Homo sapiens: one gene and its partners. The protein of the gene in region 1 purifies or fractionates together with the protein of each later gene. This does not show direct contact. Each region holds a gene or a part of one and is shown in the gene's direction. Other genes may lie near its edges. The genes, in order: MAP3K14, DHX30, PPP6R1, SAMHD1, HERC5, PTCD3 and RPL10L.

The links.
Region 2: the proteins of MAP3K14 (region 1) and DHX30 purify together in Homo sapiens (affinity purification with mass spectrometry; 2 studies listed by BioGRID and IntAct, with this or other methods). This does not show direct contact.
Region 3: the proteins of MAP3K14 (region 1) and PPP6R1 purify together in Homo sapiens (affinity purification with mass spectrometry; one large-scale study listed by BioGRID and IntAct). This does not show direct contact.
Region 4: the proteins of MAP3K14 (region 1) and SAMHD1 purify together in Homo sapiens (affinity purification with mass spectrometry; one large-scale study listed by BioGRID and IntAct). This does not show direct contact.
Region 5: the proteins of MAP3K14 (region 1) and HERC5 purify together in Homo sapiens (affinity purification with mass spectrometry; one large-scale study listed by BioGRID and IntAct). This does not show direct contact.
Region 6: the proteins of MAP3K14 (region 1) and PTCD3 purify together in Homo sapiens (affinity purification with mass spectrometry; one large-scale study listed by BioGRID and IntAct). This does not show direct contact.
Region 7: the proteins of MAP3K14 (region 1) and RPL10L purify together in Homo sapiens (affinity purification with mass spectrometry; 2 studies listed by BioGRID and IntAct, with this or other methods). This does not show direct contact.

What each region holds. Positions count from the first base shown.
Region 1 is NC_000017.11:45,310,521-45,314,020, reverse strand, and holds part of MAP3K14 (mitogen-activated protein kinase kinase kinase 14), read left to right. Parts: intron 1-1,583; exon of another isoform or gene 1,584-1,736; intron 1,737-3,500.
Region 2 is NC_000003.12:47,841,138-47,844,637, forward strand, and holds part of DHX30 (ATP-dependent RNA helicase DHX30), read left to right. Parts: coding exon 1-41; intron 42-479; coding exon 480-600; intron 601-1,968; coding exon 1,969-2,118; intron 2,119-3,500.
Region 3 is NC_000019.10:55,232,149-55,235,017, reverse strand, and holds part of PPP6R1 (serine/threonine-protein phosphatase 6 regulatory subunit 1), read left to right. Parts: intron 1-2,806; coding exon 2,807-2,869. UniProt on the Homo sapiens protein: Regulatory subunit of protein phosphatase 6 (PP6). May function as a scaffolding PP6 subunit. Involved in the PP6-mediated dephosphorylation of NFKBIE opposing its degradation in response to TNF-alpha.
Region 4 is NC_000020.11:36,945,209-36,948,708, reverse strand, and holds part of SAMHD1 (deoxynucleoside triphosphate triphosphohydrolase SAMHD1), read left to right. Parts: intron 1-1,904; coding exon 1,905-1,971; intron 1,972-3,500.
Region 5 is NC_000004.12:88,463,619-88,467,118, forward strand, and holds part of HERC5 (E3 ISG15--protein ligase HERC5), read left to right. Parts: coding exon 1-5; intron 6-236; coding exon 237-367; intron 368-3,440; coding exon 3,441-3,500.
Region 6 is NC_000002.12:86,109,235-86,112,734, forward strand, and holds part of PTCD3 (small ribosomal subunit protein mS39 precursor), read left to right. Parts: intron 1-1,878; coding exon 1,879-1,924; intron 1,925-3,500. UniProt on the Homo sapiens protein: Mitochondrial RNA-binding protein that has a role in mitochondrial translation.
Region 7 is NC_000014.9:46,650,510-46,652,986, reverse strand, and holds RPL10L (ribosomal protein uL16-like), read left to right. Parts: upstream 1-1,205; 5' UTR 1,206-1,250; coding exon 1,251-1,895; 3' UTR 1,896-1,977; downstream 1,978-2,477. UniProt on the Homo sapiens protein: Testis-specific component of the ribosome, which is required for the transition from prophase to metaphase in male meiosis I. Compensates for the inactivated X-linked RPL10 paralog during spermatogenesis.

The sequences.
Region 1 (3,500 bases):
CCCTTGAAATTATGTGGCATCAAGAATAATTTTATGGCCAGTCTTTGTATTTTCACACCATACTCATGTGAAGAAGGGCAGGGACAAAGATCAGAAAAGTGAAGCCTCATAAGGAGAAACAGACAGGATTGCTCAGAATCTAAACCCCCTTTTCTTGATATCTAGGTCACTGCTTTTTCTACTACCTTGCTCATGAAACGATAAGGATTTTCTTCCCCCAAACATGTCAATTTTGAACATAACGAAACCAGGGTAGCAGCTTTATTTATTTATTGTACCAATCAATTATTAATTGATATTGATTTTTAATTAATAAAAGGCCAAAAGATGAATAGCCTGCTGCCTGGACAGGTGTGCTTGTGCCCATTTTCCAGATGTAGAAACAAAGGCAGAGAGCCCGTGATTTGTCCAGAGCAACAGAACAAGTCCTTGGTGTCTCCGTGTCACATGTGGTGGCTGAGGCTGTCAGGTCAGAGAGACCTGGGTCAGGTCGAGGTCTGCCACGGCCTGCCTGTGTGCCCGCAAGCAAATCACTTCACTTCTCTAATCATCAGGTGCCTCATCTGTGAATGGGATCAGAAATACTTCATGGGGCTGTTTTGAGTAGAAAATGAGAGGAGATATGTAAAGTGCTGAGCCCAGTGCCCAGCACAGAACATAGAGGCTGTAACTGTTGTTGTTGTTGTTGTTGTTCTTGTTGGTGGTGTTTGGTGGTGGTAGTAATAGTAGTAGTAGTAGTAGTAGTAATAGTAGCAGTAGTAGTTGCCAATTACTGCATTGTGACTAAACCTGTTTTCTGTAAGATGATGTCAAGAAGGGTCAGACTGCCTGACAGGCCAGAGTCATTTTCTCAGTAGGACCTTTAGGGGGACAGTCCTTCAGTCTAAAAGCTTCAGCTCTCGGGTTCTCCCTGTCTTACACTATATACTGCCCTCACCATACTCCAAATGAGGCTACAAAGGTCCAGGCTCTGCCCAGTTGACAATCCTAACTCTGAGCTGGAGACACAGCTAGGCCTGTCTAGGGGCTTCCTGTGTCCCACACGTGATCAAGTAGGTTCCTGCATTAATCCTGGAGGTGAGGAAAGGGAAAATACTGTATGGCATGTAGATCAGCAAGGACTTGTTCTTTGGGGGAACAGGAGGGAACATTTGGTTCTGTGGGATGAGGTTCCCACTACCACATGGCATCCCCAGCTCACCACCCTTTCCCCCTCGTAAAGATGTCTTTGTCAGCTTCTCTCTGAGACTCTGTCTGGGGGCCCACGATCTGCAGTCAAGGACTTGCAGATTCCCCTTTAAATCTCACAAGAAGCCTGGAATGGTGACGTGTGTTTCTTTAGTCCCAGCTACTTGAGAGGCTGAGGCGGGAGGATCACTTGAGCCCAGGAGGTCAAGTAGCTATGGGCAACATAGCGAGACCCCATCTCTTGAAAGAAAAACGTTTGTTTTAATCTCACAAGGGAAAAAAAAAGTTTCATGTTATATTTTAAAGTCTTTTTTCACCTTAATACAAAACAAAAATATAGGCTCTCACCAGGCTACTGTTCCCTTTAAATAACATTTTGTTTTCTCTTGGGGAAGCTGACTTGATGGCCGAAGAGTCATTTCTAAAGTGAAGCTAGTTTTTAGAAAAAATAGATCACCGGATGTCAAGCCTCATGTGGAGCTCGGTTCAGATGAAAATGAAACCAGCAGGCCTGGCGTGGCAGCTCTGCACTTGACTTCAGGCTGGAGGTGAGAGGCAGAGTGTGCCTGGACCTTGCTCCATAACTGGTTGGCCCCACAGAGTGCATTTGATAGGTGCCTTAGTCATTTTCCAAGCAGCTTTGCTTAGGTGAGCAGAGCACTTTCTCTGGAAGGTGAGTCACCCATGCAGGGGTGTAGGTGACAGGCGATTTATTCCCCAGCACAGTTGCAGAGAAAGTCCTGAGCAGACCTTCGTGAGGAGCCCTCTGCCACAAATCAGCCTCATCCCAGCCCCAGGGCTATGGAGGCAGGGGGCAGGAGGTAAACAGGAGGCTTCTGGGGCCAGTGGGCTGACAGCGGAGGGGGGATCGTGGACGGGGCACAGAGCCCAGATCAGCAGTGTCACTGACTCCTAAGTCCAGCCACCCTGAGGGTGGAAAATGGCCTGCTTCCAGTGACAGTCAGCAAAGAAGCAGGAGGGGAGCTTTGGCCCTGGGGAGCTGGGAAATCCCTTGGCAGAGAGCAGAGAGACAAGCCCTATTTTGGTGTGAAAAACCTTTTAGGAACGCTTTTCCACCTGCCTCCTTTTCAGCCACCTGAGTTGGAGTCTCTGCAGAGCTCCAGCGATTGTAAAGGCTAGATTAAACCCTGGATTTCAGAAAGCTTTAGGAATCCCAAGCCTGCCACCATCTCAGTTGTCTACACTTCTAGGACCAGGATTTGTACCAAGAAAGAAGCAGCAGGGGGTACTCCTGAGCCATCCCTCCCTCCCAGGTTCTGGTTACTACAGCTTCTCCTGACGCTCTTTCTGCTAAAGCCACTATCAGGTGTCCATTAACGCAGAGATTTTCTTCAGACACTGTTCTGGACTAGTGCAGTTGGTGTTGAACTTGACCGATTATGGTCAGGGACATCTATAAGCAATGTCCAGGACCAACTACAAGGAGGGCTTGACTTTAATGAAGCTGCAGCTCTTGCAAATAATCTCGTTCCCTGTCTCTGGCAGACTACCAACCCAGCCCCTGTACCCATACCCCATCAGTCTGGACCAACCAGTAGTCACCTCCTGCTGGCATGGCTAAATAACCTTAACCTCACTGTCCAGAAAGAGCTGTTAGGATTATAGCCTGGACATGATCATTCACATTTTTTGCAGTGAGAAAATGCAGAAGAGAAAATGGTGGCCCAAGAAAGCCAAGTGGGTTGCCCAAGGCCACACAGCTAGTTAATGGCAGAGCCTGAACTATAAAACCCAGACTCTTCACTGTACTCTGCTGCCAGGGAACGAAGGAACTAATCCTGAAGCAGGATTTTTTTTTTTAAACTAGCTTCTCCTTTTATTCCCCTACCACAACCCTATCACTCTCAGCCTTTCTGCAAGCTCTGCCAGGCCTGGGAAGGGTGGAGCCACAGCAGCTGCTGCCCTGGGTCTAAGAAAAAGTAAACAGAAAGCTATTTGTTGGACGCTGTCTTATACCATGAGGTTCATGTAATCAAAAGGAGGTCAAGGTTGATAAGAAAATACAATTACCAGGAAGTCTCAAAGGTTGCCCACACCTTTAGGGCACTTTCCTACCTAGCCAAGCAGTATCTCACCTAGAGTGGGTATTTAGTAACTTTCAATGATTGATTACAGGGGTCCAAACCCACAGTGCACGAAGCTCTTCTGCATCTTTCTTCTGTGCAGGAGGTGCATGCATACTCTGGGTGTTATCCTAGCTGATCTGCCTGGCTCCTCTCAGTGAGAGGCTCTTCCTTGTGGGTGAAGCATGATGTCATGATGTCATATCTGGATGGTGGCCCCTGTAAGTG
Region 2 (3,500 bases), on another chromosome or scaffold:
ATGACCCAGCAGGATTCCCACGCTCCACTCAGGGACTCAAGGTACAGATGGAGGATGGGGATGCAGCAGAGGCTGGCTGTGCCTTGACACGGGGATGGGCGAATGTTCTCTGCTAGCTTTCTCTGAGATGGGAGCGCCCCTGCCTCACATTTCAGCCTGTGTGCCCCATCACTCAGTGTGTGTCTGCCCATTCTTGGGGGACAGCCAGCTGTGGTCTTCTATGTGGCTGGGCTTTTGCAGAACAGCAGCATGGAGCCCCTGCTCTCTGCTATCTTATCTGTGTGAGGGAATGGAGGGAGCAGTCCCCATGCAGTGTGGCTGTGGGAGGAGCAGAGACGCCCGGTTTCCCATCCATTTCATGCCTTCTGCCCTTCTGGCTCCCTGCTGCAGCGCAGCGTCCTCACCCCTACATCGCAGAGCCTCAGGGAAATTGGTCCAGGAAGAGAGAATTCTTTCAGTTAAACTTTTGGTCCTCCCAGGGGGAGTTCCTTTGAGATGACAGATGACGACAGTGCCATTAGGGCTCTGACCCAGTTTCCACTTCCCAAGAACCTTCTGGCCAAGGTGATTCAGATTGCAACGTCATCCTCCACAGCTAAGGTGAGTTGGGTCTCCTAGAAGTTTGTGTGGGGGCCGTTTACTTGGTCATGTCTGGTGTTCCCTAAAGGCAGGTTTAGAGAGGGCTGAGGGGGTGTGTTCCTCCAGCCCAAACCTAGGCCAGGTGGAGGAACTCCTGCTTGGGAGGAAAAGCAGCAGGTGTGATGGAATGGAGGTCAAGCCTCAGCAGCACAGGGAGTGGGCTTGGGGGCCGCAAGAGCAGAAGACCCATACCTCTTCTGGGCGGTGGATTGTCAGTGGGGAAGGGTTAGAGGTGTGGGTCTTGGTGAGGTATGAATTTCTCTCTTGCTGCCAGGCGAAGGGGCTTTGGTCATGAAATGCCTAACCTTGTTTTTACTTTAACTCGTTGCTTTGAATTTTGTCCTGCTTGTCTCTTTAATCACCTAGCCTTGCTTCTCATGTAAAATAAGACTCTCTCTAGCTAAGAAAGCCGTACAAACCCCAATTGACCCCTTAATTTACAAGACACTAAGGGCTCCTCACCCAACCCCCTTTCGTAAGGAGTTGGCCTGGGTAAACAGATCCTCAGCATTTCAAAGGAGCCTAATTAACTGATAAGGTACGAACACCAACAATATATGAAGTTCCCAGGAATTTTCTCCAAGAGATAACAACATAAAACCTTGAGTTCGTGTCTGGCGTAGACCCTATATCTAATTATAATGAAAGATTTAGAATCTTGCACCTGGTACTGTTGCTCTTCTTGTAACCATTTGTCTTTTAAGTTGTTTATCACTCTGTAACCATTTTGATTCTTTTGATTCTTGCATGTTTTTACTTCTGTAGAATTATTACATTTAAGTCCCCCTCCCCTTCCTAAACCTAAGTATAAAAGTTAATCGAGCCCCTTCCTCGTGGCCGAAAGAATTTTGAGCATTAGCTGTCTCTTTGGCCGCCGGCTTAATAAAGGACTCTTAATTCGTCTCAAAGTGTGGCGTTTCCTTAACTCGCCTAAGTACAACAGTTAAGCAGAGCTTCTGTCCAGGTGCAGGGTCTTTTTGCTCCCGCAGGATGTGCCTGGTTTTTAGCTCATGCTGACAGCTTCAACCCACAGCTGCCACGATGTTGCCGAGATGACAGTGGGCTAGGAGGGCAGGTGATGGCATTGCCCAAGCACTGTCTTCTGCAGTGGAAGTCGAGGTATAGCAGGAGAAGCGAGCCTGGGACTAGGGTGCCTGAGCCCATGGGCCTGCTCCTGGCTATGCAGCAGCACCTCTAGCATGGCTCACGCCTGGCACCTGCTGAGATGGTGGCTCATTCTGTCTCTGGGCTCCTTGGCATTCTGAGAATGCCCCAAGTCTCTTCCCATTCCCTACATTTCTGTAACCATCTCTCTTGCCTTCCATGTAGAACCTCATGCAGTTCCATACTGTGGGCACCAAGACCAAGCTGTCTACACTCACCCTGCTCTGGCCCTGCCCCATGACCTTTGTTGCCAAAGGGCGCCGCAAAGCAGAGGCTGAGAATAAGGCGGCAGCCTTGGCCTGCAAGAAACTGAAGGTGAGTCCAGGAAGGTCCTGGGTGTGGTGCATGAGAATGTCTTGAAGCTCCCCTCTGCCAGTGGCAAATGGGTCCCATTTTCTAGGAAATGAAACCACCACAGCAGGCCTTTTGCCTGGCACAAAGACAGCTGGTATGCAGGCCTCGCTTGTAGGCCCTGTGGCTGTTGCCATGGCTTTTCCAGAGGCCCTGTGGAGATACTTTGCCCGTGACCCAGCATTTTCCACACTGTTGGCCTGAACCTGGTGAGGCCGGGAGGAAACTTGCTCATTGTTCTGAATAGTATAAAGCCGGGAGGAGCCGGGCCTGTTTTGAGAGGCAGACCTGGTGTCCAGTATGATCCTGATAACCCGGGTTTTGTGGGCAGAATGAATAATGTGACTTGTGACTGCAGTGATGATTGAGGAAGCAGTCAGGATCAAGGTAGAGACAGTGTGGCAGACAGCTGGCAGTTCTCTTTTTTTTGAGACAGGGTCTCTGTGGCCCAGGCTGGAGTATAGTGGCACGATCATGGCTCACTGCAGCCTCGATCTCCTAGGCTTAAGCGATCCTTTCACCTCAGCCTCCTGCATAGCTGGGACCATAGGTATGCACCACCACTCCCAGCTTATTTTTAAACATTTTTTGTAGAGACAAGGGTCTCACTGTGTTGCGAAGACTGGTCTTAAAATCTTGGGCTCAATCAGTCTTTCTACCTTCACTTCCTAAAGTGTTGGGATTGCAGGCGTGAGCCACCGCTCCTGGCCATGGCCGTTCTCTTGAAAGGGGCTGGTGGAGTTAGCTGATGGCACAGTAGTGGGAGGGAGTTGGGATTGTCTCTGACTGCCTGAGGAGTTAGTAATCTCAACCCATGTTGGTGGAGGTTTAGTTTGCAGACCAAGATAGAAATGGGCCTGCTTTACTCTGAATGGTCAGGTGCACCATTTCATGGGTACAGTTGGCTCTGGGAACCATGTTTTAGTTACAGCTGATGGTGAGAGGTAACAAGAACCTGGAGAAAGACGAGGAAGAGGGGACAGGCAATTGGTGAGATAAAGAGGGCACAGATATGCTACCTGTGACTCGAGGGCAGAACAAGGACTGAGTAGAACTGGAGGCATCTGAGCTTTGGCCTGATGCACACGCACTGTGAGCAGAAGCACCTTGGCATGGTAGGGGCCTGTCTGGGAAGGAGCAAGCTTTGCAGTGGCTGGAGGGCCATTTGTCAGTGAGGCTGGTGGGTAAAACCCATGAAGTCTGGGGAGAGGGCAGAAGCCTGTTCCTGCAGCAAGGAGCTTGTGTTGGCACCTCCTGTGGTATGAGGACCAGATTCCTGTCCTTTAGGTCCTTATAGCTGATGGTGCCAGCACGCCCAGAGGCAGGGGGTTGGCCCCTGTTGGGGG
Region 3 (2,869 bases), on another chromosome or scaffold:
TGTGTGGCCAATGGATATCCTTCCTCAGTGCCCAGACCCAGGAGCAGGACCTTCCCAGTACCCACATCCCCTCTGTTAGCCAGTATCCTCCCTTCTGAGGGTAAAGTTGTCCTGGCTTCTAACCCTGTAGATGAGTTTTGTCTCTGTTTTCACTTGATATAGCATACAGCATCTCCTTTTATGTCTGACCTCTGTTGCTCAACACTCTGCTTGTGAGCTCCTTCCCTGTTGTGTGTTTGGGTGCCCCTGGCTCTCGTGCAGTGGGGCAGTGCCATGCATGATGAGCTGCAGCTGAATTGCTTGTTCTGCAGTTGACAGGCCTTTGGGCAGGTTCCTGTTGCTCGCTGCTGTGAGTGCAGCCGCTGTGAGTGCGGCCGCTGTGAATACCCTTGCACGTGTTGTTGGTGCACAAGTGTGTCACTGCCAAATCCAGCATCTTGACTTAGCCCTCTCTTTTCTTCTAAGAGTTTTATAGCATTATTTCTATGGTTTTCCATTCATTTTGAGCTAAATTTTGTATATGATGTGAGGTGGTCCACCTTCATCCCTTTACATATAGATAACCAGTTTTCCCTGCACCAGTTGTTGAAGACACTGTCCTTTCTCCACTGAATCATCTTGGCACCTGTGTAAAAAGGAAATATTTGACCATATGTATGAGTTTGTTTCTTCCCTCTCTGTTCTGTTCTATCAGTCTGTGTGTTGTTTTTATCCAGTACCACACTGGCCTGGTTGCTGTTGCTTTATAGTAAGTTTTGAAAATGGGAGGTTTGTTGGGCACGGTGGCTCACACCTGTAATCCCAGCACTTTGGGAGGCCAAGGTGGATGGATCACCTGAGGTCAGGAGTTTGAGACCAGCCTGGCCAACATGGTGAAACCCCATCTCTACTAAAAATACAAAAATTAGCCGGCTGTGGTGGGTGCCTGTAATCCCAGCTACTCAGGAGGCTGAGGCAGGAATATCGCTTGAACCTGGCAGGCAGAGGTTGCAGTGAGCTGAGATCGCACCATTCATTGCACTCCAGTCTGGGTGACAAGAACGAAACTCCATCTCACAGAAAAAAGAAAATGGGAGGTTTTAGTTTTCCAACCTTGTTCTTCTTTTTAAAGATTGTTTTGCCCTATTTGGGATTTCTTGAGATTCCATATGAATTTTAGGATCAGCTTGTCAATTTCAACCAAGAAGCCACCTTGCGTCTTCTAATACGTGAACATGGATGTCTTTTTATATAGGTCTTAAAATTTCTTTCAACAATGTTTCGTAGGTTTTAGAGTATGAGGCTTTGTATTTCTTTTAAGTTTATTCCTGTTTTCTTCTTTCTGTTACTATTGTAAATGGAATTTTCTTGAAATTGTTTTCAGATTGTTACAAGTATATGAAAATACAATAGGTTTTTGTATGTTGATCTTTCATCCTGCAACCTTGCTGAACTAATGTATGAGTTCTGATAGTTTTAGTGGACTCCTTAGGATTTTCTATGTACAGAATCATGTCATGTGAATAGAGTTCATTTTCCTTCCTTTCAAATCTGGATGATTTTAATTTCCTTTTCTTGCCTGGTTGCCCTGGCTAGCCTCCGGGACAATGTTGAACAGAAGTGGCAAGAACAGGCATCCTTGTTTTGTTCCTGATCTTAGGGGGAAGCATTCAGCGTTTTGCCATGTAAGCATGCTGTTAGTTGTGGGGTTTTGTAGATGCCTTATGTTAGGTTGAGGGGCTTCCTTTATACTCCTTAGTCGTTGAGTATTTTAGTTTACTTTTAACTATATACAGATATATTACTTTCCAGTTAAAGTAGTCAGTTACTCTGTTAAGACAAAAATATTGGGTCAGCATTTTAGACATAGTATATAGTCCCATACTGCATCTTTGGGTCAGCGATGGACCACATATGACAGTGGTCCCGTGAGATTATAATCCTCTATTTTTGCTGTATTTTTCCTATGTTTAGATACACAAACATTTACCATTGTTAGAATTGCCTGTAGTATTCAGTACTGTAACATGCTGTATAGGTCGGTAGTCTAGGAACAATAGGCTATACCACAGAGCCTAGGTGTACAGGAGGCGCCACCATCCAGGTGTGTGTAAGTGCACTCTAGAATGTTCACACAATAGCAAAATCGCCTAATGATGGCGTTTTTCAGAGTGCACCCTCGTTGTTAAAGCTTAGTTTTAGTGTTACTTTGCTTACCCCTTCCCCGGTTGATCAGCACGTAGGTTGCTTGGATTTTCTTCATGCTCACAGGTGTGTGTTAGTCAACATTCAGCCAGTGTTTTTGGAGCAGCTATGGGTGCCTGGTGGTTTCTCAGGGCTGAGGATACAGCAGTGGCAAAACTCAGCCATCTCTGCCTTCTTGGAGTTTCTAGTTGGAGGGAGAGAGTAGTGTGAAGCCTCTGTCCAGAGGGTGGGCCTGCTGGTGGGAAGGCCTGTCACTGTGGTGACCGTGTGAGGTGACGGCTGGGAGGTGGCTTGAGAGCTGGTGAGTGGGTCTGTCTGCTCTGGTTGCCATGGCTGAGGCTCAGCCCACTTCCCCAGGGCCTGCCCTCCACGGATGACTGGCGACGGACGGTCTCCTTACGGCCGCATTCTGTCCCTGCCCGCCTGTGTTCTTGCCGTTGGCTCAGAACTCCCTCTCCCAGCCTCTCCTGGTGTCGTCACACCCCAGGCTCCCTGGACCCTTCTGTGACCTGCCTGTCATCCCAGCCCGCTCTCCTTGGGCTGACCCTGGGCTGCAGGGAACAGGATGGGTGTCGGCCGGTCTGTCCCACACAGCTAGCTGACGAGGTGGTTTCTGGGGCAGGAGTGGAGGCAGCACAGACAGTGAGGACGAAGAAGAGGAGGACGAGGAGGAGGAGGAAGACGA
Region 4 (3,500 bases), on another chromosome or scaffold:
TTTTAGTAGAGATGGGGTTTCACCATGTTGGCCAGGATGGTCTTAATCTCTTGACCTGATGATTCACACGCCTTGGCCTCCCAAAGTGCTGGGATTACAGGTGTGAGCCACCACGCCCGACCAGCAATAGTCTTTCTTTCTAATAAAGTTTCTCTTGGCCGGGCACGGTGGCTCACGCCTGTAATCCCAGCACTTTGGAAGGCCGAAGCAGGTAGATCACCTGAGGTCAGGAATTCAAGCCCAGCCTGGCCAACATGGTGAAACACCGTCTCTACTAAAAATACAAAAATTAGCCGGGCATGGTGGTATGTGCCTGTAGTCCCAGCTACTTGGGAAGCTGAGGCAGGAGAATCACTTGAACCTGGGAGGCGGAGGTTGCAGTGAGCCAAGATCCCGCCACTGCACTCCAGCCTGGGCGACCGAGTGAGACTCCATCTCGGAAAAGAAAAAAAAAGTCTCTCTTTATCTAAGTCCATTTTTTTTTTAATTTGATAAGCCAAGCACAAGGTACAGTGTCCCTTTTCTCATTATGGAATACAGCCTCACAAGAAGTCTGAAATAAGTTACTACACTCAACACATTTTACCGATGATGTATGCGAGGTCCAAAGATGTAAAGTAACTTTTCAGAGATCACACCACTACAAAAAAGAGCTAGATTTTTTAAGGTTAGGTCTTTGGACTCTAGAACTCATGTGATCTATACCTTAACAAGTATTCTCATCAAAAACCACTGGAGGCCTGGCCCAGTGGCTCATACCTATAATCCCAGCACTTTGGGAGGCCAGTGTGGGAAGATCACTTGAGCCCAAGAATTCAAGACCAGCCTGGGCAACATCAGGAGACCTCAACTTTACAAAAAATAAAAATAAAAATTAGCTAGGTGCAGTGGCACATGCCTGTGGTCCCAGCTACTCAGGAGGCTGAGGCAGGAGGATCGCTTGAGCCCAGGAGGTCAAGGCTGCAGTGAGATGTGATCGCACCACTGCACTCCAACCTGGGCAACAAGCAAAACCCTGTCTCAAAGAAAATAAAAGAAAATAGTCCAGAGTTCTGGAATTTGAGGTCAGGAAAGATTAGAATTAATTGTATAGAAAGAGAAAGGAAAAAACCCAACAACACACACACACACACACACACACACACACACACACACACCCCTCTTCCAAATCAGAGTATTGAGTGCTTTCCCAGGACACACACACACACACACACACTCACACACACACACACCTCTTCCAAATCAGAGTATTGAGTGCTTTCCCAGGACACACACACACACACACACACACACACACACACACCTCTTCCAAATCACACACACCTCTTCCAAATCAGAGTATTGAGTGCTTTCCCAGGACACACACACACACACACACACACACACACACACACACACCTCTTCCAAATCAGAGTATTGAGTGCTTTCCCAGGAGGTTTGAGAAAAATCAACACTTTAAGCACTCTTGAATTCACGGTTTTAACTTGTTAATTCTAAGAACAATAGACTTAGGTTTCCTTCCCTCCCCAACTCAAACCTTGTTAATTCTAAGAACAATAGACTTAGGTTTCCTTCCCTCCCCAACTCAAAGCTGCTGACCTGGCAAAACCCCAACAGGTAGTCGGGTTTCACTTTCCTTTTTGCAACTGGTTTTTCTTGGAACTAATTTACACAAATAATTTTGAAATTTTCACGTGATTTATCAAAAAATGCTTCTTGGTTTAGTTATTTAATTAAAATTAAGTCTTTACAAGTAGCAGATCAAAAAAGTGGTACTTGGCACAATCCATTGCCTGCAGTGGGTACTCACTTATGTGGATCTGGGTAAATGTTGGTGTATCCAAATTGAAAGAAAATGAAAAGCATATGTTGTATACATTGAATTTGTCTTTTTTCTTCCATAGAAAATGAAATCACAGGCGCATTACTGCCTTGTCTTGATGAGTCTCGTTTTGAAAATCTTGGAGTAAGGTAAGAATGAAGAAATAAATTCACGTTATAACCAAACACACTTTATCCATCTTTCAGGGACAAAGCCCAAAATCTCTGATATAAACTGTCCTCATTTTAAATCTATGAAGTGCTTTAAAACAGCAGAATCCCTTGCCTGCTGGTTTTGTTTGTTCATTTGTTTTTTGAGATAGTCTCTTGTTCACCCAGGCTGGAGTATCTCGGCTCACTGCAACCTCTGCCTCCCGGCTTCAAGTTATTCTCCTGCCTCAGCCTCCTGAGTAGCTAGGATTACAGGTGCCCACCACCATGCCCCACTAATTTTTTTTCGGTTTTTTTTTTTTTTGAGACAGAGTCTCGCTCTGTCTCCCAGGCTGGAGTGCAGTGGCGTGATCTTGGCTCACTGCAAGCTCCGCCTCCCGGGTTCATGCCATTCTCCTGCCTCAGCCTCCCGAGTAGCTGGGACTACAGGCGCCTGCCACCACGCCTGGCTACTTTTTTGTATTTTTTGGTAGACACAGGGTTTCACCATGTTAGCCAGGATGGTGTCAATCTCCTGACCTCGTGATCTGCCCGCCTCAGCCTCCCAGAGTGCTGGAATTACCGCGCCCGGCTGCCCCACTGATTTTTGTACTTTTAGTAGAGATGGGGTTTCACCATGTTGGCCAGACTGGTCTTGAACTCTTGGCCTCAAGTGATCCGCTTGCCTCGGCCTCCCAAAGTGCTGAGATTACAGGTGTGAGCCACCGCGACTGGCCACCTGCTGTTTGTTTTCGCTGTACAAATCCTATGTTTGCTATTACTGTTTATTCCTATTTTAGTTTATTTTTAATTTTATTTATTTATTTATTTATTGAGACAGAGTCTCACTCTGTCACCCAGACTGGAGTGCAATGGTGCGATCCCGGCTCACTGAACCCCCTGGGTTCAAGCCATTCTCCTGCCTCAGCTTCCTGAGTAGCTGGGATTACAGGCATGCACCACCATGCCCAGCTAAGTTTTGTATTTTTAGTAGAGACAGGGTTTCACCATGTTGGCCAGGCTGGTCTCGAACTCCTGACCTAAGGTGGTCTGGAGTTCTGACCTAAGGTGGGCCAAGGTCTGCCCACCTTGGCCTCCCAAAGTGCTGAGATTACAGGCATAAGCCACCGTGTGTGGCCTTATTCCTATTTTAAATAATGTTGCAGACAAATCTTCATCAAGTTTGTAGTGACCAACTTTTTACTCTCAAGTTCAGAATAATTGAATTATACACACTGGGAAATACATAAGAACCAATAGGGAAAAAAATGTTAGTAAGAAAATCAAGGCTACACCCCTATCTTGAGCATATTTCTAGGTTTTCCTAAAGATTGGAATATGCCCTGGTATTAGATTTAAAGACACTATGCAAAACAGGCACTTTTTAGTTGTATAATTTGGGAGAAGTCATTTAACCCTTCAGTTTCTGTACCTGTAAAATGGATAACAATAATGAGATGATGTACATAAAGTGTTGAAGCATATGATTAACGCTTAGTAAATTTTATAGATAGTGATACAGAAAATTA
Region 5 (3,500 bases), on another chromosome or scaffold:
CACAGGTGGGTGTACCCTTGTCTCTTTTTGGCTGTATTTTTAGAAGAACAGTTTGTATGGGAAGTTAGTGTTTCCCAGAGAAGAAAGGTCATCACTTCCTGTATGTAGGACTGTCCTTCTGATATTTAGGAGCTTTACTTTGACAGTGCTATTTATTAGTGATTCACTTTGCATCAGTGAATACTACTTTTTTATTTTATTTTTCTAGCATCTGATATGACATTCCCTTTCCTTAGGATGGGCTGCTGTTTACTTTCGGTGCTGGAAAACATGGGCAACTTGGTCATAATTCAACACAGAATGAGCTAAGACCCTGTTTGGTGGCTGAGCTTGTTGGGTATAGAGTGACTCAGATAGCATGTGGAAGGTAAGTTGTAAAGTATCAATAAGAATTGATAAAATGAGTGCAGCAAACTAGATAGTAATTTAATAAAATTTCTTTCAGTTTCTTTGAGATGTATCAAACATTTTCAAATCAGTGAAAATGCTTAATTTATATTATTTAGATAAATGTAATACCCCTTTTACTATACATGGTTGTTTTCTTTGATTTTTTTTTTTTTTTTTTTTTTTAAATGAGCAGATACAATTCACTTTCTGCTGTCTCCTTAGTGAAATACCTTTGTAACTATTCAGGTGCACTTTTGTCTTAAAAAAACAAGTCATTAATTGTTTATTTGGGAAAAATAAAATGTAAATCACAAAGGATTATTCATTAAATGTAATCACCCTCTCTGACAATGCCTTGTGGCCAACATACTTTTTAATTACCAGAGTTCTTTCATTGTAGCCTGCCCTGATCACAGTAAAGTATAAGACATAGTCAGTGATGGTTTGAGTGAAATATTCCTAAGAAGTTTAATTTTCACAGCTCCTTTTTAGAAAAGAAAGGTAAAATGTCTTGCTCAGACTCCTTAGTTTATTTAAAGGTTTTTTGGTTTTCTTGTTTGTTTGTTTGTTTGTTTTTTGGTTTTTGGTTTTTTTTTTTGAGGCAGAGTATTGCTTTGTTGCCCAGGCTGGAGTGCAGTGACGCAATCTCAGCTCACTGCAACCTCCGCCTCCCAGGCTCAGGTTATTCTCCCACCTCAGCCTCTGGAATAGCTAGGATTACAGGCGTGCACTGCCACAACTGGCTAATTTTTAAATTTTATTTATTTATTATTTTTTTTTGAGACGGAGTCTCGCTCTGCTGCAAAGGCTGGAGTGCGGTGGCGCAATCTCGGCTCACTGCAAGCTCCGCCTCCTGGGTTCACACCATTCTTCTGCCTCAGCCTCCGGAGTAGCTGGGACTACAGGCGCCCGCCACCACGCCTGGCTAATTTTTTGTATTTTTAGTAAAGACGGGGTTTCACTGTGTTAGCCAGGATGGTCTCGATGTCCTGACCTTGTGATCCACCTGCCTCGGCCTCCCAAAGTGCTGGGATTACAGGCATGAGCCACTGCACCTGGCCACAACCGGCTAATTTTTGTATTTTTAGTAGAGTCGGGGTTTCACCGTGTTGGCCAGGCTGGTCTTGAACTCCTGACCTCAGGTGATCTGCTCGCCTTGACCCCTCAGAGTGTTGGGATTACAGGGGTGAGCCACCACGCCACTATTTAATTTTTTTGATTATCAGATATATCAGTCCACGTCTTGCCAGAGGGATGTTGGAAGTTGGTAGGATTAAAAAATATTTTCCCCCATATACACTTATTCTTTTGGGCAGTTTTTCCCTCACTAAACGTAGAGCAAAATTCAGACTGTATTTGAATGCTGGGTTCATTTGTTAGTTTACTGAAACCATTCTTATAAAAAACTAGCATGAATACTTTCAGTCTGTAGGCATATTTTCTTATGATCTTGGAGTAGAATTACATAAATGGGTAATATTATTAAGGTAGACCAAATTATCGGAATATGAGTCTCTTCACCAAAGAAGCGTTCTCTTCAATATTTATACCTCATTCGGTATCTCTTAACCAAAGCAGTCTTATCACCTCTTTGGATTCTTCATTACATACAGTCCTTTTGAGTAGCATGTATTACAAGAGAAGGAGGCAAGTTGGAGATCTGTCTTAATGCACATCAGGGCAATACCCCTACTAACAGGACAATTCACTGGAAAGACTCACGAACTTACTAAAAGCTATTATGCTCATAGTCACATTTATTACAAGAAAAGGATACAAACTAGTACCAGTCAAAGGAAGACACATAAGGGCAGGGTATAGGAGGGCTGCAAATGCTGAGCTTGTGGCTGTCACCTCCCCTTGGAGCAGGTGGATGGTGTTATCTCTTCTGGCCTGATAATGTGACAGGACATACAGAATTTGCCAGCCAATCAGAGAAATTCACCCAAGTTGAGAGTTGTTTTTGTTTTTTCTGGTTTTTTTATTTTGGAGACAGGGTACAGGATGTACATAATCTGCCATCTAGTCAGAGGAGTTCACCCAAGTCAAGACCAAGTCAAGAGTTGTTTTTGGTTTGGTGGTTTTTTTTTTTTTTTGAGACAAGGTCTCACTCTGTCACCCAGGCTGGACTGCAGTGGTGCTATCATGGCTTACTGCAGCCTTGACCTCCCAGGCTCAAGCAATCCTCCTGCCTCAGCCTCCTGAGTAGCTGGGACCACAGGTCCACCATGCCCAGCTAATTTTTAAATTTGTTGTAGAGATAGGGTCTCCTTATATTGGCCAGGCTGGTCTTAAACTTCTGGGTTCAAAGTATCCTACTGCCTTGGCCTCCCAAAGTGCTGGGATTACAGGCATGAGCCACCACACCCCACCTAAATTGAGGGGTTTTATTGCTGAGGCATGATTGGTTAAATCATTGCCCGGATAGTTAAACTTAATCTCCAGCACTGCCCTCCTGTAGGTCTGATTTACATCACAGGCCAGGAGAGCTCTCCCAGGATCCTGCCATGAATAATAAAGACTCTCCTCTATCACTTGGGGAATTCTGTGGGTTTAGAGGTTACCTCCTAGGAACAGGGCACCAGCCAGACCTCTCTGGGCAAGGCAGATTCCTTGCTACACAACAGTATAGTGGAATATACAAACCAGCAAATCAATAGGAAAATCAGTGTGGTAAAGGTCTTTGAGAAATTAAGTGGGAACTCAACTGAGTCTTCCAGGATGGAAAGTGAAGGGACTCAGAGATGGTTTCCAAGAGGTGGTGACTCAAACTGATGTTGAAAAATGAGCAGAGGGCAAGGGGAGGTGCTTGTTTCAACAAAGGGAACACCATTTGCCAAAGTATGACATCATGGTCTTGAGTGGCCTTTGGGTTCCAAAGTCTTTTCAGGTACATGTTGATTTCTTGGTTTCCAGATGATTTTCATCCTCTAAGAGATGTTTAGTTTCACTCTCACTGGGTAACATAGTTTTGGCAATTTACTGTATTGCTAAACACTCTCATCATTGTGGATAATTAAGAATTGACCATATGTGCTTTTATTTAATAGGTGGCACACACTTGCCTATGTTTCTGATTTGGGAAAGGTCTTTTCCTTTGGTTCTGGAAA
Region 6 (3,500 bases), on another chromosome or scaffold:
CTCTACTAAAAATACAAAAAAATTAGCCGGATGTGGTGGGGGGTCGCCTGTAGTCCCAGCTACTCGGGAGGCTGAGGCAGGAGAATGGCGTGAACCCGGGAGACGGAGCTTGCAGTGAGCCGAGGTCGCGCCACTGCACTCCAGCCTGGGCGACAGAGCAAGACTCCATCTCAAAAAAAAAAAAAGACTTGGGTTCATTTAAAAAGACTTTTTTAAGAACTTTATTAATCTGAACTGTGTGATTATTTTAGGGAGGCCAGGGAGCCCAGTGATGTCAATGCATAGGTAACTGGGATCATAAAAGAAGTGCAAATTAAAACTTACCGTATTGGCAGAGAGAGGATTTGAAGAAATACGTTTGTTTATGGGACAGTAAATTGGAACAGCTCTTTGGAGGGAAATTTGGCAGAATCAGAATTGGAAATGTGCGTACCTTACTGGTTAGCCACTTTGGAGGAACATTTGCATATATACATGGACAAGACTGTTCTTTATTACTTGGGAATAGTAACAGGTTGAAACAGCCTGAATGCCCATTGAAAAGTGAATGGATAATTTTAAAAGGTTATCATACAATAACTTTTTACATTGAAAGGAATTAATTAGCTCTATATTTAATAACATGGATAGTGCAGCCAAACTTATGTAGACACATGCAGAATGACAGTGTGTATACGTTTTTTAGGGAGATGTTTATGTGTGAAAATACCTTTAAAAGTTCTGGAAATACAAATACCAAATTCATCGTGGAGAGGGGTCACAAGATGACACCAGACACTTTAGGTTAACGTGTAATGTTCTAGTTTATTTTTTTAAGATAATGTATGATACCTTTTAAAGTAACCCTTTAAAGAAAGAGAATTAGTGAGTAATCTGAATGTCATCATTTTTTCACTGCCATTTGTTCAATATGTTAGGAAAGTTTGCTAACTTGATAAGACTTAAATAGGGCAATAAAAGATCTGCTGAAGGAATGCTGACAGATGAGAGAATGTGTCGTTATCACACTTGCTGAAATTACATAAATGTGACTTCTAAACGTGGATAGAAAATTTAGTGGATATTATGTACATCAGGGAATTAGTTTTGATGAAATATAAAATTTCCTGTACTTTTGTTTTTCTCAGATGACTTATAGTCTTAAGAATGTTATGTTAAACTTTATTTAGAAAAATACTCTTGGTATAATTCCCTTTTGGAAAGGAAACACATTAAATCTAACATAGGAGCACAAATATATTTGAGATCAAATTATCTTGTCTGTCATTTATTCCAGTGAAGCCTTTTCTAATAGTTCAGTAAAGGTCTCTACTCAGAGGTGCAGTGGACAGCTGGCCTGCAATTCTTACCATAACGTTATATATGGTTGAGAGGTTCTAAACCAGGAGGTTGCATCAGAATTATCTGGGAATTCAGTAAGAGTGTGTGTGACAGTCCTCCATGGATCTTGGGAGGCTTTGATGCAATAGGTCCAGAGTGAAGCCTGTGGTTTATTCTCCTATAACTGAATCAAGAGCTACCAATTAGGATAGTAAAGGCAACAGTAGTCCCGAAAGCTGCAGTAAGAATCCATAGGAAAGTGGGTAGAGGAAGTAGGCCAGATAGTTTTATGAGGGCGGGATGGAAATCACTAGCCCTGGGTTATGGCATTATGCACCAGGCCAGAGAGGACAGGCAAAGAGAGGAACATGTACCAACTAGGGGAAAGAACCAGCAGTTTTCTTAATTTCTAATTTATTCTAGTGACCTTGTGACATAACCAGCTTCAGATGAGATCTGCACTATGTTATTGGCCAGTACACTGAGAGTAGAATCACTTGTTCGGTTTGTGGCTATGAAGAGCCCTGATGAGGATTAACTTGTGGTTCTTATTTTTAGGGATAAAGTAGCCGTTCTTCAGGCACTTGCATCCACAGTAAACAGGGTAAGTAGGATTTTGTGTTTTTTTTTAACCTAAAACTTGGCTAATAACACACTTTTTAACTCGGCTAATAACACATTTAATACTCATACCTCGTCATTACTCAGAATTAAACTGTTGTGCGTCTAGAAAGTTTCTTTAAAATTGTCTAGGCCGGGCGCGGTGGCTCACGCCTGTAATCCCAGCACTTTGGGAGGCCGAGGCAGGTGGATCACAAGGTCAGGAGATCGAGACCATCCTGGCTAACACAGTGAAACCCCGTCTCTACTGAAAATATAAAAAATTAGCCAGGCGTGGTGGCAGGCACCTGTAATCCCAGCTACTTGGGAGGCTGAGGCAGGAGAATGGCGTGAACCCAGGAGGCAGAGCTTGCAGTGAGGAGAGATCGCGCCACTGCACTCCAGCCTGGGCGAAAGAGCGAGACTCTGTCTCAAAAAAAAAAAAATTGTCTAATCCAGCTGAGCCAGGTGGCTCATGAATGTGATCCCAACACTTTTGGAGGCCAAAGTAGGAAGACCACTTGACATCAGGAGTTCAAAACCAGCTTGGGCAATGTAGCAAGACCCCCATCTGTTTTTTGTTTGTTTGTTTGTTTTGTTTTGTTTGAGACAGAGTTTTGCTCTTGTTGCCTTAGGCTGCAGTGCAATGGCGCGATCTCGGCTCACCGCAACCTCCACCTCCTGGGTTCAAGCAATTCTTCTGCCTCAGCCTCCTGAGTAGCTGGGATTACAGGCATGTGCCACCACGCCCAACTAATTTTGTATTTTAAGTAGAGACGGGGTTTCTCCATGTTGGTCAGGCTGGTCTCGAACTCCTGACCTCAGGTGATCCACTTGCCTTGGCCTCCCAAAGTGCTGGGATTACAGGTGTGAGCCACTGCGCCAAACTTTTTTTTTTTTTTTTTTTTAATTTATTTTTTGAGACGGAGTCTTGCTGTGTCGCCCAGGCTGAAGTGCAGTGGCACAGTCCCGGCTCACTGCAAGCTCTGCCTCCCAGGTTCATGCCATTCTCCTGTCTCAGCCTCCCGAGTAGCTGGGACTACAGGCGCCCGCCGCCACGCCTGGCTATTTTTTTGTATTTTTAGTAGAGACGGGGTTTCGCTGTGCTCACCAGGATGGTCTCCATCTCCTGACCTCCTGATCCACCCGCCTTGGCCTCCCAAAGTGCTGGGATTACAGATGTGAGCCACAGTGCCCGGCCTTTTTTTTTTTTTTTTAAGAATAAAATTATTGGCCAGGAGCAGTGGCTCACATCTGTAATCCCATCACTAATCCCATCACTTTGGGAGACCGAGGGAGGCTGATTGCTTGAGGTCAGGAGTTCGATACCAGCATGGTGAACATGGTGAAACCCTGTCTCTACCAAAACAACAAAAACAAAAATTACGAGGCATGGTGGCACCTGTAGTCCTACCTATTCAGGAGGCTGAGGCAAGAGAATCTCTTGAACCTGGGAGGCAGAAGTTGCAGTGAGCCAAGGTCCTGCCACTGCATTCCAGCCTGGGTGAGTTAGTGAGACTCTGTCTCAAAAAAAAAAAAAAAAAAAAAAATTTAAAATAAAATTATCAAATCCCTTTATT
Region 7 (2,477 bases), on another chromosome or scaffold:
CAACATTAAAACAAAAAAGAAAACTAGAAAAATGCAAGTAGGGTTTGTAAACTATTAATTTCTTTTCCTCTCTCTTCTTCCTCCTTTCCTACACTCTGATCCCTGTCATAATATTTTTACAAACTCTGAGAAGAAAAAAAGTTTAAATTTATTCTCAGGGGCAAAAGATTACTAAAACACAAACTGTTACTCTTTTATATAGTTTCAGCAGCTTTAACATTTGAAAATGCAAATAGCCTTAAGTTAAAAAAAATCTAGTTGGTGTTTCAATTTTGTATATATCATTTTGATAATAAAATCATTTCTTTAGGCCAAATAAAGAAAAAACAAAGTTTCATGTTTATAAAACAATTGCCAAGCTACAGATACAACAGATATCTTCTCTTTATCCCTCTCTCTTCTCTTCCTCTCATCTCTTCCTGAGTCTCATCAAAGCACTCATGCCAAGAAACCACTTTATCCAGGGAAGGTGGCCACATAACCCAAGAAACAGCAATTGATCTACAAATGCTGACAGTGAGATACAAGCTCTGGAAAATGAACTGACCAAACTGGAAACAGCATGTTGAATAACTGGAAGGATTTTTCCTCTCAAATTCTAGGATTTCTTTTTTTCTTTTTCTTTAGACAGGGTCTCCCTCTGTCACTCAAGCTGGAGTGCAGTGGTGCTATCTCAGCTCACTGCAGTTTCTGCCTGCAGGGCCCAGGCGATCCTCCCACCTCAGCCTCCTGAGTAGCTGGGACTACAAGCATGTGCCACCATGCCCAGCTATTTGATATATATATATTTTTTTTTTTGTAGAGACAGCATTTCACTATATTGCCCAGGCTGGCCTCGAACTCCTGAGCTCAAGAGATTCTCCTGCCTGGAAATAACCTCTTTTATACTTAAAGCAAAGCTGAAAGCAAGAGTTCCTAGCCCAAGATGGCTAGCAGAAAGGAAGCAGCAGCTGTGCAGTTGGGGCGGGGCCCAATTCCTTCCCTGGCCGCCAGGGGGAGTCTACCCACAGCTGACTCTGCTCACCTTAAGCGCGCCACTTGGCGCAGGCGCTGAGGCGCCAGACGTCCCTGCGTCTCTGGTTGGGACGTCCTGAAAGAGAGTCGTCACATCCTCCTCAGGACTCTATGGTTCCGGCCTCAGGACTCTATGGTTCCCGCGAGGGACGAGGGGCAACGTATATAAATGCGCGCAGGCGTAGTTAAGAGAGCGCATTTTGACTTCGAGGCACCGCCGACGTTACTGTGTCGCCATGGGGCGCCGTCCAGCTCGCTGTTACCGGTATTGTAAGAACAAGCCGTACCCAAAATCTCGTTTCTGCCGAGGGGTTCCTGATGCCAAGATCCGCATCTTTGACCTGGGTAGAAAGAAGGCAAAAGTGGATGAGTTCCCACTCGGTGGCCACATGGTGTCTGATGAATATGAGCAGCTGTCTTCTGAAGCCCTGGAGGCCGCCCGTATTTGTGCCAACAAATACATGGTGAAAAGTTGTGGCAGAGATGGCTTTCACATGCGAGTGCGGCTCCATCCCTTCCATGTCATCCGCATCAACAAGATGTTGTCCTGTGCTGGGGCTGACAGGCTCCAGACAGGTATGCGAGGTGCCTTTGGAAAACCCCAGGGTACTGTAGCCCGGGTCCACATTGGTCAAGTCATCATGTCCATCCGCACCAAGCTTCAGAACGAGGAGCATGTGATTGAAGCCTTGCGCAGGGCCAAGTTCAAGTTCCCTGGACGCCAGAAGATTCATATCTCCAAGAAGTGGGGCTTCACGAAGTTTAATGCTGACGAATTTGAAGACATGGTGGCCAAGAAGTGCCTCATCCCTGATGGTTGTGGAGTCAAGTACGTTCCCAGTCATGGCCCCTTGGACAAGTGGCGGGTTCTGCACTCATGAAGGTTTTGGCAGTACTGTCTCCTTGGGCCATGCTGGTCTGACTTATGCTTACTAATAAATTCTGTTTACTGGCAAAAAATAACTCCTTATTAAGTTTTAATATTTTTTAAATATCCAATGTTTTAGAATATAGACTACTAGAGAATTTTTTTCTATTTATTCAGTTTTAATGGCAAATGTTACCTTCCTTGCTTCAGTAAAACTATACAATTTATAGAGAAAGCTGTTTTAAGCAAACACTTTAAATTTAGGAGAGTATAGAGCAATATGTTGAAAGTTTTGTTTGTAGTAAAGTCATAAGTTATGCAGCTATCATTCCTTGAATAAAAAATAGATTTGAGTGAAAAAATTTGTTTATAGAATATAAACTAAACAGTAGCGATGAAAATAATAGTAGGCATTAGTGATATTTCACCCACAGCCTCTTTGGAAGTAATTTATTTCTAAACTTGGTTGCCTTATGTTTTTCTATAAATTTCTGTACATTGTTTTTAGAATTACCTTACACGTCTGATTATCAGCCTTAGGACAATTGAGTATCACTCTGAAAGGCTTTTCCAGACGAACTTTACATTGTCTCAC